Linked DNA regions of Homo sapiens: regions 1 and 2 are each linked to region 3. The links come from fine-mapping of genetic effects on gene expression. A gene starts in region 3. Each other region holds a variant in brackets. All regions are shown on one strand. Distances are between the middles of the regions.

What was found. PIP is the estimated chance that this variant, and not a neighbour inherited with it, causes the effect. A credible set is the group of variants that fine-mapping cannot tell apart.
Region 1: its variant is the best candidate, but not a certain one, in a credible set for the expression of CNTN6 in testis (GTEx, PIP 0.67).
Region 2: its variant is the best candidate, but not a certain one, in a credible set for the expression of CNTN6 in testis (GTEx, PIP 0.64).

What each region holds. Positions count from the first base shown.
Region 1 is chr3:1,050,090-1,055,326 of GRCh38, reverse strand. No RefSeq gene overlaps it. Among named protein-coding and RNA genes, the nearest start is that of CNTN6, 40 kb to the left of the region's middle. The variant A/C (reference allele first, on the strand shown) is at 2,407.
Region 2 is chr3:1,147,386-1,152,622 of GRCh38, reverse strand. It overlaps CNTN6 (contactin 6), which reads right to left. Exons shown (of 23, transcript NM_001289080.2): 2 at 4,560-4,696. The coding sequence starts at 4,614. Among named protein-coding and RNA genes, the nearest start is that of CNTN6, 57 kb to the right of the region's middle. The variant G/TATG (reference allele first, on the strand shown) is at 3,217.
Region 3 is chr3:1,090,768-1,096,004 of GRCh38, reverse strand. CNTN6 (contactin 6) reads right to left here and starts at 2,981. Exons shown (of 23, transcript NM_001289080.2): 1 at 2,885-2,981.

The DNA.
Region 1 (5,237 bases), 41 kb after region 3:
TTGTTGGTTTAGTTATTTTCCCCATCTTTCCCTCTGCTGACTACCACACTGTAGGGTCAACGTATGTCTGACAAACAGAAGTATAAATGAATTGAAATGATAAAAACCACGAACTCTTAACTCCTAAGCCAGAGTTGTTTCCATTACACCAAGCTGACTTGATCTATAACAGACAGGACAACAGATACTATGTTGTGGTCTAACTATAAATCAAAGTTATTTCCTTTAATTGAAGTTATACTTATGATAAAGAGTGGAAAGGGGAATATAGTTTTTTTTTTCTGATGGTTTAGGCTATGTATATATATGCTTCCAAATCTACTCTTTCAGTTAAAAACACTTAGTTAATGATTCCACTTCTTTGTTTTTCTTTTTGGGTGGCTATATATGAGCATTAAGCTCATCTAATATTGTGGTTTATATTCATTTAATTCCAATTATAAATGTAATTCCAACTAAATAAATAAACAAACAATATCAACCCTCAAGCTTTGCTTTGGTTGAATAACATGAAATAAACACAGCTTGTAGCCCTAATTAACCAGGTAATTGGTTCTGTGTAGACTTGGTCTGTGTTTGCTTGATAGTGTATCTTCATTCTCAAGCCATGATTTCTATTAGACTTAATTATGCCCCCCGCTACTTTAAATCGAGGGTGTCCTCAAAATGAGTGTTGCATGTATTAAATTTAATTACTTCCTTCTGTGGATCAAGTGCCTAAGATGCTGCTATTAAAAGGAAGTTTTTACTAAGAGAGGATGCTCCTGAACTGGAACATACATTTGTAAAACAACTTCCAGTACCATCACATGGCTCTGACTGGCTGTTTGCAATTCTTGCATGAACTCATTCTTTTTATTAAACATGCTTTATGGAGTAAAATGTCTCAAATAAACATGGCTACATATTCAATTTTTTTTTCTTGGCATGTCCAAATTGATAATTTGTTCATTTGTTCTCCTGGATCGATATTTCAACCGGGAAATGACATATCTATTCTAGGCATATTGTGGCTAATGGCTACTGGTACATAAACCTTCAGGCAATATATGCTTTCCAATAATTAATTTATTAGTAAACTCCCTAAGAGTGTTGTAATAGAAACTGAAAGGTGATAGAAAGAGGAAAAACACAACGGAGAAATGTGCCAACTATGTACCAAGATCTGTTATTACAAACACTTTTAACTCAAATAATTGAACTCTGGGGAATTTCATCACTTGAATTTTCATTTCAGAATTGTCTCAACTTAATTCCATTGATCTTCAGATGCTTTTATAAGCAACCTTAGCACAGATGATTTGTCTAAAGAATCTAAAGCAACATTAGAAAAACAGAACAAATACCTTACCCTATTTTCCATTAATAAGAACACTTTCTTTTGGTTATAATACGTATGTCTGCAAGTCTGTGTTGGCCATAGACTAGCTGTGTAACCTTGGGAAAATTGTTTTAGTAAAATGAAGATAATCATTATAATTCCCACCTTACCAGTCTAACCTGGTTGTCAAGATGATGAAACAAGAATGCTCTGAATTTTCCACATTAATATTAATTTAAAATACCACTGTTCAAAAAAGTATATAAGTTTAAGACAGAAAATTAAAAATCATAAAAAATGACGCTAAGCTATTTTGCACATTTGATCAAAAATGCCCATCCCATTAAAAAACAAACAAACAAACAAACAAAAAAACTGTCTACATAATTCTGAAGTAGTTTGAATAAATTTTTGCCCTAGCTAATGGTATGTCTTGGCTGTCCCTAAGACATCATTTAAAGTAACAATTATTTTTTCACCTGTTATTACTTTCTTCCAGATAATAGCACATGTCAAAAAATTAATGATCAAAAGCAGTTTTTAGCTGGGCGTGGTGCCTCGCGTCTGTAGTCCCAGCACTTTGGGAAGCCAAGGCAGGTGGATCACTTGAGGTCAGGAGTTTGAGACCAGCCTGGCCAACATGGTGAAATCTCATCTCTAGTAAAAATACCAAAAAAAAAAACAAAAAAACAAAAAAACAAAAAAAAAAAAAGGTGGGAATGGCGGCAGGTGTCTGTAATTCCAGCTACTCAGGAGGCTGAGGCAGGAGAATCCTTTGAACTCAGGAGGTGGAGGTTGCAGTGAGCCGAAATCGTGCCACTCCACCCCACCCTGGGCGACAGAGGGAGATTTTGTCTCAAGCAAAAAAAAAAAGCAGTTTTCAACATGCAAAAAATAAGGTCATTTATTGCAAATTACTTGGGCCAGTTCCAAGTAAATAATTTTACATGATCTAGGCATTTAAATGAACTGTCTGTGCTCAATTACCTGCTCCTACACCATCCTACACCATGTTCCCAGGTGCTTTTTACCATTACTCTAAAATTTTGCTATGTTTCCATATCTCTGGATTGTAAATGATTCAA[A/C]ACACATTAAAATGGTAAGGCCGTTTAGTTAATGTGGAACTAGTCTTTGATCCTGGGCAATTAGAAATGAAAGATATCGTCTGTATTATGTGGGGAAGTATCCAAAGCGCCTCTTCTCTAAAGAATTGTAAACTATGGTGAAGCAGGAGGGAAAGAAAGATTTGTCCCCATGAAAGACAGACTCTTTAATTCTGCACGACTCTTGACAAGCCAAACTCCAGTTGTTGTAAGTTAAAAATAATAATGAAAACAATAATACTAATAAGAGCAATGACTAATATTTATCCAGTGTTTATATGTGCTAGGCATTTTGCCAACACTTTATATACATCTTCTAATTAAATCCTTTCAATGAAGAAACTGAGACATAGAGAGTTTGAGTGAATTGCTGAGTACCACATACTAGGATTCAAACTAAGGGTTATCTGATATAAGAGTTCACTCTTAATTTCTGTATTATAATGCAAGAAAGACAACATTTAGCTCAATGGAGCTTGATCTGAGTTCTACAACAACAGAATGAGATTGTCAGTCAGTAATTCCTATTCACAGAGATTGAAAATGATAGAGCAACAAATTTATGGATGAAGAAATAAAGTTCAGAGCTGCAAAATGTCTTTTTCATCACCACAAAACTGGCTAGAAACAGAGATGAGATAGATGCCAGGTCTAATAAACTTTTCATCATATCCTACATTTTACCCAGTTAATGCTGAGGAGTACCTGTAAGGATGTTATACAGGTGTTTGCACAAGAAGTGGTGCAGTGGACGTGCTAGGCAGTGTTATTTTTTTCCTGTTTTTACAAAAGAATGTCTTTTATATTCTTCCACCTGTAGTTTGCACTAGCCCTCTGGTCATAGCGATGAGCAATAGGAGTTAGCAAATATTATAACCTATTTCCCAGACAATAGTGGTTGGCTCAAAGGATGGATAAATCCAACTCTCTGCTTGATATTAATCCATAAGTATTTACAAATATCATGTGCTTTCCCACTGAAGTTGCTAAAATGTGGTTGTTTTAAAGCTTATGATCACTAGAAGGAAATTGAGCCAACACACAGCAAGAAACAGAAGCAAGAGAAGGTCAAAGAAAATCCCAGCACGGTTAAACTGTGGGTTCTAAATATTTAATTCATCTGCTGTTTGTTTTTTAAAAATTCTATTCGGTAAATACTCCTAAATCCCTCCTTGACTATATGGGTCAATTAATTTCTCTTTTCTTTGAGTTAGTTTGAGTTGAATTTAAGTTTCTTGCAACTGAAAGACCGAAGGCCTAGCTACAAAAGATGAAAGGGCTGAACGCTGTTTCCCTTGAGGTGTCTTCCAAGTCACTATGAGTTACTAATGGTTATGTCTGCTATGTTTAGTCATTCACCACTATTACCTATTCCACCAATTCAACAAAGCACCCAAGAAGTCAGCTGGAGCCACTCACTCACTGTGAAGTAAAATGAGAACCCCTCCAACAAGTAGCCCTGTTTCCAAATGTAAGAAAGTCTAAAACTGAATCCTAATATTCATAAAACATTTTGTTTTCTTCAGGGGAATTTAAAACACTGTAGCTAGAAACATTTTTTTAGCACCACAAACCAGCAGCATTTGAATTAATTCTTGTAAGAGAAAAATATTGTTTTCTTCAAAGAAACTCCCTTGTAAGTTTATGCACCCAGCTGTATACTCCCAAACCGTTCTCACTTTATCATGTAGATATGGAAGTTGACATGGCTATTTATTGTGCCTGAAATTTAGTTTTAATTATTTTGATGCTTCTTGGAAACAAGTCTGAAGCCCATGGTCAACACAGCCAAAATGTATGAACTTTTCACAATCATTGCAAAATTTCTTGTTCAGAATATTCCATTATGTTGAATAACAATTTGTGAATAGGTTGATGATCAACAACTAATGTCCAAATAGCAGTGCCAACCAAAGCTAGGAATCATAGGCAATTACAATATACCTAAAACATAACTGTGGCCCTCTCAGTGAGTATAAAATTATTACAATTGTAATGATGCCTACAAACTCAAAAACTCCAAATATATGTTGCTAGCTCTACTTTTCATACTCAACTAAAAGGAAATGTGTATAACATGAAAACTGACATTGGGGAACAAAAACTGGCTAAGATATGAGTCATAACAGACACTACATTATCAATCTTTATGTTGAACTGTAGTCACACTATCACAGGTTTAAAATGAATTCCAAGCCTTTATATCTATAATTATTCTTAGAGAGAAGCAAAAAAAAAACACAGAGATTTCCAGGAGCTGTCAAATAATCAAGAAGTGACCCTCTTTAGACCACTGATACCAGTTGGTGAATTGAAAGTTTTTCAAAGTCAAAGTATTGAAGAAGTGCCCAAATAGATGTGTCCATGACACTCGATGGGCTTACCCAGCTGTCTGTAATTTTAAGTTACAGACAAGACTTGTCAACAGTGGAGTGACCTTATGAAGGTCAAGGCATAGTGGGAATTATTGAATAGATTGATTATGCATCAGGCTTAGTGCAAAATTTTGTCTAATTTTCTTAAGTGCCACTTAGGCAATAAATAGGCCAGGAAGAAGTTCACAACATACTAAACACCTAATATTTCTCTATTTAGCCATCCATATACAGGTAATCATTTCAAGCACACTAAGTCATTTGAAGCCAAGGCAGTGGAATACAATTCTATTTCAATTTAGTGTACTAATGTGACACTATCTTCTCTGTAAATAATTTAAACTAATTTTTTAAATTGTAAACTGGAAAAGAAATTAAAAGCCACTATATGCTTCTCATATCTCCTTAAGTAATTAGTAATTAAAAACAAGATTCAGC
Region 2 (5,237 bases), 57 kb before region 3:
ATCATCTTGTGCATTCTGAGAATTTTTCACTGTGGGAAAATGTGACAGTTAATCACATCAGTTAATCTTGGGTTTCTTAGGCAGGTGACATTCTAGGGTCAACAAAATTTGACCCTACGTGGTTTTTCAGCTTCTACCCATTACTGACATTGTTCAGTATTTATTAAAAAATAAAATATTTCTGGACCGGTTGTGATGTCTCATGCCTGTAATCCTAGCACTTTGGGAGGCTGAGGTGGGTGGATTGCCTGAGCTCAGGAGTTTGAGACCAGCCTGGGCAACATGGTGAAACCCTGTCTCTACTAAAATACAAAAAATTAGCCCAGCATGGTGGTGCGTGCCTGTAATCTGAGCTACTCAAGAGGCTGAGGCAGGAGAATTGTATGAACCCAGGAGGTGGAGGTTGCAGTGAGCTGATATCACGCCACTGCACTCCAGCCTGGGCAACACAGGGAGACGCCATCTCAAAAAACAAACAAACAAACAAACAAACAAATATATAAATAAATAAAATATTTCCTCATGAAAACAATCTGTGCATTGTCTACAAAGACAAAAAGTAGACTTACAGTTATAAGTTTTTCTCCGTTTATTAATTTGGTTATCCAAATTATCTCATTAACATATTTTTTCTACTTTAAGAAATGTAGATTTTTCAGTAACTCAGGGCTGAGAATAAACGTTCTTAGTCTATATTAAACCTCTTGATTTTTTTTTCCTTCCAGGAATTATTGTGACTTCTTAAAATTCTTTTATTTGCTCTTTTCCTCATTTTCATTAGTGAATAAGCATTTATCCCAGCAGAGTTCTGTTACTAACTCAACCTCAAAACCAAATTTTTAAAGCTGTATTAGTCAAGAACTTTTTTGTCACAAGGGGCAGAATCTCAGTTTAAGTGGACTTACTTGCTGGTTTCCCTGTTTAGACTGTCAGGTTGAAGAGGGCAGGGACTATGGACCTATTGTTGAAGGTCAACATCAAGCTCCTTGCCTGGCACATCATAGTTTCTAATATATTTCTATATTTGTTGAAGTGAATGAAGCTGCTTTCTTTTATTCATTTAGCAAATATTTAGAATCTGTGTATTAGGGGATGGAGAATCAGTAAAGCATAAACCAGATGAAATTTCCTGCCCTCACAGAGTTTCAAATACGGCATGATTTAAAACTTTTAAAACGTTATTACAATTCTATTTCTAGAAACTTATGACTGTAACTTTAATACACACTGGCAACCATAAAGGAATGAACCAGACTAACAGTTCCCCAGAGGATATTATATGACTAAATTTATTCTACTGTGATAACATAAATAGAACAAACAACATTAACTTTTGGTAATTAATTAATTCATTCATTTAACAAATATTTACTGAATCCCTACCAAGTACCAGCAAGATATAGTCCCTGCCATCTGGAAGCTTAAAGCATAGTGAGGAAGAAACTTCAGTTTCTTATGACTTCTATAAAAGTTACCAAAAATGTTATGGCTTAAAACAGTACATATTTATTTTCTTAGAGTCCTGGAGGTCAGAAGTCCAAAATGGGATTCACGGGGCTGAAAAAAGGTGCAGGCAGAGCCATGCTCAGTCCACAGATAGAGGGGAGAATCTGTCCCCCTGCCTTTCCCAGCATCTAGAGCTTCCTTCATCACACCCCATGGCTCATGATCCCTTCCTCAGTCCTGAAGTCTAGCAGTGCAGCATCTTCACGTCTCCCTCTGCTCTGCTGCCTCATTGCCTTCCCCTCTGTCAGGTCTAACTCTGCCTCCTTCTTACAATCTGGATAGTCCAGGGCTATTTTAATCTCCCCATCTGAAGATCTTTAACTTAATCACATCTGCAAAATCCACTTTACTGTATCAAGTAGCACTCACAGGTTCCAGGTATTAGGACCTAGATATCTTTTGGGGCCATTATTTAGCCTGTCATGCATATCAATGAAACAGTTAAAAAGTATATAATTATTAACTGTATTTCCTAATTAAATGGGCCTTCATTTTCTTCTAATATTTTAAAAATACTAAAATAGAACAATTAAACTTTTAAGTACTCAAAACTTTAAAAGTGTCCCAGAATCAATCATGTATGACTGTATGGATTAAGTTTCATTGTAAAGGCCTATGAGGCCATGACTATAGTAAAAGCACTAGAAGTTGTAGTTAATTTTTAGAAAATGAGGGGAGAGGTTGTCAAAAAATTTTAAGTTTTAATTTAGAGTCTAGGGAGATTTAAAGTATCAACCTGTTAGAAAAATTATAATAATTCAAATAGCAAGGAAAAAGTAAGTAATTGTGAAAGATTTGCTGGCATTTCAGAATGAATAAAAAGTATGTTTTGGAAAAACAAGATATTATCACTATGCATAGTCACAGAACTCTATCATCAGACAATCTAATTTTCTAAACTAAAATAGTATCTGCGAATAGGGAGACACACCATGAAACGTCTAACAAAACAAACAGATTTAAAGCAGTGTTGTCTTGTGTATGTCATTATCAACATCCTTACCTCTGGAGCAATGTTTAGCTTAGATTATCTCATTTAAGTAGCTATGGCTACTTAATAGATCCAATCTGTTCTTTCACAATGAAATTGTGCACCAAGGGTATATGATGATTTCTCCCATCAGAATAAAGCAACAGGACATGTTGAATCACATCCAGTTTGTATAAATAAAAGTTAATATAAGAGCTGGAGTATTTCTCAGATTTGATACGTGTTCTGAGACTAATAATTCATTTTAATTTAACACAAAAGGTCTTTTAGAGATCCTATGCTAATTCAATATACATATTTAAAGGGCAAAATGTTAATGTTGAATTTTGACAGGAAGATGAAACTTAAGGGTAGGAATATAATTCTTATTCACACATATATGATTTGGGGGCACCTTGATGAGTTTTCTCTGTCTTTTCTTAATCTATTACCAAAAAAAGAATACACTATTATTTAACCCCAAATCTTTGTTACAGAGACTTAGAGGTGTCACCAATCAAAATACTGTAATCACTTTGAGTAAATATAACTATGGCACTTCTAGCTGCTAGCTTTGCTAGTGGTAAAATTGCTTTTATTTGTATGGTTTTCTGATTCTCCTGTTTGATTTCTGCATATTTTAGCATTCTCATTCATTTTAAGATCAGCATATCTATTTCTCAGGATTGCTATAAAATATATGTCCTTTACAATTACTGTGTTTCTGCCTTTTAAATTAT[G/TATG]TTTATTCCTGCATGTCTGTCAATGTATTACTGCTTTGTTATAAGTACGTGAAACTTCACTAGTACCTATCAACACATAGTCGGGGGGAAGAAGCATGGTATGGTAGAAGAGAGGCTTCTTTGATAATCATATGATCTAATCAATGTCCATGCTCTGTAACAACTCATGTAGGTAAGCTCAACAATTAATCTTGACAATTAAGCTCAGTAATTATGAACTCTATGATTGTAACAGACTATGGTTGGTTGTTTACAAAAACAGCCACGATTATTGCCTTTATTATTTCTATGGCCTTTTTATGGTATAATTTTGCAGCTTTTCTATCAAGAGATGTAGTGTCATTCCACATCTATTAAAGCTGAACTTGTCTTGTGACTTATAATTGTCAAAATAACTCACAGAAATGGCAATGTAGCAGTTCCAAGCGTTGGCATCAAGAAATGCTGCATTCTTCTGTCTTTTGTTTTCTTGGAACCCTGAGCAGCCACCATGTAAAAGAACCCAGACTCACAGAGGGTAACATTTGGACCACAGCCATGGCAGCACAGTTGTCTCAGTTACGAATGTTCTAGACTAGTCATGTCTCAGATGACTCAGCTCATCGAAGTTGCAGTGCACCCAGGCAAAAACCAAAAGAAGACCCATTTGAGCCCATCGTAAGTTGTTAACCCACAGATTTGTCAACTAAATACATGATTATTTGATATTTTATTACACTCACATTTGGCGTGGCTTATTACAAAGCAAAAGTTAACTGATACACAGATATTAATATGTTCAAGTTGAATAAAAGAACATGTTCTTGTCTATTCTTTTAAAATAATTAAAAAGAAAATATATCTAAGGTTATTTCTAGTTCTGAGGTAACATTCTATATCATCTTTTCTTCTAAATGAATATAGCTTTGATTTTTTTGCCATATCAATTTCTAAACATGAGAGAAATATGTATTTTAATTTTAATTTTTTAAAGACTTCACTATAATGAAAATAAGAATAATTATTCACTGTTTATTGGTGATAAAAATATTTAATTACATTCTTTTATTAAAATGTCATAGTATATTATATAATTAAATATTACATAATTACATTGTATAAAAATGTCATATTTGCCAATTTATAAATGTAATAATGTTAGTTTCCATTTAAAACTGGCATTTGATACATTTTTAAGGATTAAACTTTCCCTGTCTGAGTCATAGAAGTTACCTTCAAAACATTATCACTTAGTCATTCAAATAACATACAAATTGTGCATTTTGAAAATTGCTTCACCCATAGAAAGAAATACAATGCCAATATATTTATCAATCAAAACTTATAATAATAGAACACTTTACCTGCAGAAGAGTTTATGAGTGGCAGCAGAATTACCAGTTTCCATAGCAACCTCATTTCCACTTTCTAAGGTCAAAAATTTCTCCCATACAATCAGGTGGAACAAAACAGTCTATCTTCCAGTCAGTATCTCAAGAGTCTGAAAAAGACAAAATTGTCATGAAATGAAAAACGTACAAACACGAATATTTTAATAAGCATATTTTTGTTGCATATTAATTCAATTTAATATTAATATTATTATCCAAAATAAAGCAACCTAAATGGATGCTTTCTACACATACATTTGTTCTGCGAGTTCCAGTAATGTCAGCTCATATTTTCTTAATTTCAATTCACACCTCAAATATTAGAAAACATTATTTGTCCTAATATCACAAGAGAAAAATTAATATTGTGCTGCAAAATTTCTGCAAGAAATCAATTTCTAGCAGTGTTATCTTTCAGGTACGAGACTTGCTTTTCCTAAGGGGGTTGCATCATAATTTTCTCTAATTTATTTTGACATTTAAGCTATGCAGTGATAAATGAAATCAAGATAAAATGTTAGTTTGGCCTTTAGCCCAAAAGAGAAATCTAATAAGAGGTTCATAAAAACTCCTAAACTCATAAAAATTTAGAATAAGCTCAGAATAAACTTATCTATGTCCATGTTCTGTAACAACTCATGTAGGTAAGCT
Region 3 (5,237 bases):
ACTATTTCTTTGGTGGAGAGGTACTACTTACTGAAATCTAACAACCCAAAAAATAATTGAAAATAAAGAACACAGAAATGGTGAATTGGGTAGTAAAAGCCTGTTGATAAAGGATAATTCCTTACAAATTTGAAATAAGTTTAAACTGAGACCATGGGAATTCAGCCAGAATGTATGTACTCAGTAATGTAAAACTGATGTAGTTTAAATTGAGGTGGTATGGGTGGAGTTGATGACAAGTCACATTGCAAATGCATTTAACTATCATAACAAGGGTTATAAAAGTTTGTTTACTATTTAAACGTGCATCCAAAAAAATCTTCAAACTATTTCTATTTTCAAAATTTTTGGTCTTAACTGTAAGGGTATTATTCTGGACATAATATCTCCATTGGAGAGAAATCTATACATGAAATTTAACAATTTCTTCAATGTTGTTTCAACTTCTCTTTTTTCAGTTTAATTAAAATCTAAAATCAAAAATTAAACTCAATGTTTCTGTTTTCTGTTTTCTGTTTGTTTGTTTGTTTGTTTGAGATGGAGTTTCACTCTGTCACCCAGGCTGGAGGGCAATGGCGCGATCTCTGCTCACTGCAAGCTCCGCCTCCCGGGGTCAAGTGATTCTCCTGCCTCAGCTTCCTGAGTAGCTGTGACTACAGGCACACGCCAAAACGCCCAGCTAATTTTTGTATTTTTAGTAGAAATGGGGTTTCACCATGTTGGCCAGGATGGTCTCAATCTCTTGACCTCGTGATCCGCCCGCCTCGGCCTCCCAAAGTGCTGGGATTATAGGTGTGAACCACCGCGCGCGGCCAATATTTCTGTTTTTTTTTAAGTGTAGGATAAGATCTCATTCTTACAGAAGAGTATCTATTATTGACTATATTATCTAAATATTTATTATTTATTTTTTAAAAGGTGTATAGTAAGAAACCATTCTTACAAAAGTATTTATCTCTCATCTTATCTGAATTTAGGCACCAGTATGTCTCCAATGATAGTCGCCAAATTTCATGATTGTTATTTACAGGTGATGGGTTTTCCCTTTTGAACTTTTATGTATAGTTTGAGTCATTTTTAATAGGTAGAACTTATACTTCTGCATTCCAATTAATATGTTATTAAAATAAACAGTGAATAAATAAGCAAATATTTTGTATTCCTTCTCCTCACATAAAAGAATTTAAAAGGTACAAATTTACTATTATACTACTGAGCATTTTTACTTACTAAAAAAAAAACCCAGAAGTATGCAATCAATTTAATATACCACACATCCTTTTCACAACATAATTGATTTTTTTTAGAGGGGGTTCTAAACTCAGAGAAAATATGTGATCCTTTTCTAAGTAAACAAGTGAATTTGTTTTCATTAAGGAAAGCTACATAAAAATTCTAAAAAAAAATTCTGGTCCTTCACTACAAATATTCAAAGGAAGTAATGCAATGAAGTCATTTATAAATGATTGACTTTTTTGCTAAGATGTGATAAGTTATGCATTTATATAACCTCACATAAAGCTTTATATAAAAGTTTCCACATTTATATATTTGAAATCTTTGGACTGCACAGCCATGATTATTGCTTAAAAAAAGAAAAAGAAACCCCACTGAAACATCAAAGATGAAATGCTTCTGTATTTCTTTTTTTTTACACAAATTGTGTAAGTATTTTTGTATGTTTATGTTTGTTTTGTGAACATGCGTATGTTTACACATGTGTGTGAAGGAGGAGGGAAAAAGAGTCTGCTTAAACATTTCTTTCCTTATAAAATACAATGCACATAAATTGGTGAAACCTTCAACAACAAAAATAAAAAGATGATAAACCCATCAGATAAATGAAAATTGCTCAAAACAAGCAATTCAATATTCAGCATATGCTTCTTCTTTTACAGACATCTTCAGAAAACATTGCCACTGTAGATAAAATTATGAATACCTCATTTTCCAAATTGATTCTGTGTGATTCTACTGTTCACTCTATTTTTTCTCAGTATAACTTCTATTTAGTCATTCTGTGAATGTTTCTCAGAGGACATAGTCAGGATGCTGATTATTTAAACATAAGTAGTTTTCATTTGGAGAAGCAAAAACTATGAATTCCAATTTTCCCCCCAAACCCCAATGTTACAGTATCCCATTAACATAATGGGTTATACGTGGCTAATCTCAGAGCTCTTAAAAGTTTTGTTCCCAAGTCATCAACTTCTGAAAGTTTTCATAAAGTATTATAAGAACCTTAATACTGACAACTTAACTGGTGTAAATGGTAAAGGAAACTCCAGAGGCTGTTATCTAGAAGCTGGGTATAAAGCAAAATGCCAGACAAAATTTGGTGAGCCCATATGACCTCCAGTCTTGCTTTGCTCCCCTTACCAAATTCTCCCCTAGGAAACTTTATAACCATTCTTTTAAATCATCCGGTGAGAACTGCAAACCCCACCCCTCATCCCTTTGATTAAAAAAAAAAAAAAGACAAAAAACATTTAGCGATCACATTTTCCCATCTGCCGTTACAGAAAGGGCGTGTAGCCATCTGAAAGTCCCAGAATTAGCACTGTCATCCCGTCTTGCCCATTAGTTTTACTGCAGCAAAGACTAGTGAAACACTGAGAAATATACCTGTAGTCTTTCTTTCCCTGGTTTGATCCTAACCTCCCGGAATACAGATTCAATACATTTCTCCCACACAAGGAATAAATGCATTTTAAACATCAGCATCATAGAAACACAGCATCAATAAAGCAGTGACTTCTCCCCCAACCCCAGCTTTTACCTGTTATGCTAATACAAAGACATTGAAAGGAAGAAAAGCTGCAGCTTGCCCAGCAATATTCTCATTGCAGCAGACACAGCACAATTTTGTACTTACAGATCTTACCAGGGAAATGTCTCGGGATCTTTACAGTTTTTCTGCAGAACTCTGTTTCAAGCTCTCAGCCAGGCATGCTGTGCGTCCAGGCAGAACCAAGCCGTATGGAATGTCTATGCAGCTGGGAGATAATGGGACTCTTTTTCCCAGCTGGGACTGCAAGCCTTTTATCCACTGAGTATTGCGTGGCTCTTCTCTGGTCTTAAGCATGAAATACGCTCCTCTCCTGCTGCATTCCTGTCGGAGCCAGACAATCAGTTCTTGAGGCACATGTGCAAAGCTCTCGTTTGGAATATTCAAAAGGAAAATTCTTTCTACATTGAAAGCCAGCTCTATCTTCATCAACCTTCACAGAATCAGAGAGAGCTGAGAGCAGCTGCCATTCCAGGGCCATGAAAGATTAAATTCACCCTCCTCTTTCTTTGACTGGAGATAGTCACTCCTGTCGGGTCATCAGAAAATCTCTCTTATTGAAAACTGGGTCAGACTAACTACTTATTAGGTTTCCAACAGGAAAGGAAGTAATTTTTTTCTTCCTCTGGTTTCACTGCATTGTCATTTGCAAGCAAAGATTAAGCTGGTCAAGGGTCTGCACTGATTTAGACAGTATTCAAATGTAAGCTTTTTGAAGCATGCCAGTAACTCCTATTAGTGAAGGTGAAGAGAAAAGGGAAATAAAATCAAATGATTGTATGCACTATCACTAAAACCTTTATAAGTTGTATTTTTTAAATGTGTGTATGAGGCTTCTTAAAGACAGGTAAAGAAAGTGAAGTCAAACAAGTCCAAAAGAGTATTGCTGCTTTCCGAGTAACATATTTGTAATTCCAGAGGCAGAGAACAAGTGTCTATGTGTTTGCCTAAGAGCTCTGTAAGAAGAAGAATTGTTTTTGTGTTTCACCCTGGGCCCTCCAACTAAACTTTTTAATATGTTTGGGTCTTGTCATCGGGTTTTGAAGGGACTAACTGCTTGAAGGATGAAAACTAAGGAATAGGAATTACACATACATGCACACTGAGACTCTAGTGCATACAAACATAACTATAACATGAGAAAAGAATGATAGTTTGGACTTATTTTCATGTTGGCATACAAAGAAATTATACTCTTAGCATCTTAAAGTAAGTGGATACTGAGAAAATGAAATCCCCAAATCAAATGGAAATAAGTCAAAAGATATTTCTTGGCCTCAGTTTACTTTCATCTGATGAGCAAGAAGGTTTCTATGACTACATTTTATGACTATGTCCTATGGATTTCTTCACAGGGTCTAACCAACATTATAAGAGGCTTTAGAAAGGAGATGATGCTTCCTAACACAAGGTAAACTCAAAATGGGCTACCCTATTGTTTCTCCCAATTCATAAGAAGGCAAACTAGACTAATAATTTTATAGAAAGAATATCTGTTTTTATTGCCTCTTTTTTTTTTTTTTAAAAAAAATAGAAGTATTTCTTGCTCTGTAGGAATAAAAATATATTTTATTTGTAAAAATGCCAAGATGACTTTTTCTGCAGAGTTTTAAGAAAAATAATCATTATGTAGTAGGCTTTATTTTTTTTTTGTGGAAAGAAATTCATTCAAGCTTAAAGAATATCCCTTTACTCAAATCTCCAACAGTCTGACTCATATTCAAGGACAGCTGATTGCTTTGCTTTCTATTTTACCCAAAAAGGAATAAGAACCAGAAGAAAACTTCAATAAGCTCCTGTCACTACATCTAGTCACATACTTGGCCCCTGTGACCACAGACTCTCCCTTCATCTTGTTACTTGAGGTGAACCGTGCTCCCTCCTTAGACCAAGCCATCCACCTGTGCTTTAGATAGTCTTCTACTCAAGGGACCATTCTACCCACTTGTCTCTCTCTGTGGAATCATCAACTCTCCCTACCTTCTGTAGCATCACAACAAAGAGATTTGCTGCTAGTTGGCCCATTTTAAAAATCAGCACCCCTTTAACATACCGTCTTCCTCTGTCTACTACTGCATTTCCTTGCTTCTGTTTATAGTAAAACACCTTGAAGGAATTCTCTGTACTTACTGTCTCCATTCATCTTTTCTCATTTTATCTTGAATCTGCTTTGATTAGTCTTTTGTCCCCACTGTTCCACATAAGTGTTTCTGGTCATAGTCAATATTAAATTACGCATAGAATAATGCAATGGTCAACTTAGTCCTAATTTTACTTGATGTATCACTCACAAGTAATACAGTTTACCAAGTACTCCTCCTTTAAGCATTGCTTTTGCTTAATTTCTTAAATTTTCTTCTCGTTTACTACCTGCTCCTTCTCAGATCCCTTTGCTGATATCTTCTCATTTTATTAATTTTTAAACACTGGGGGAGGAGGTGTGGGTATC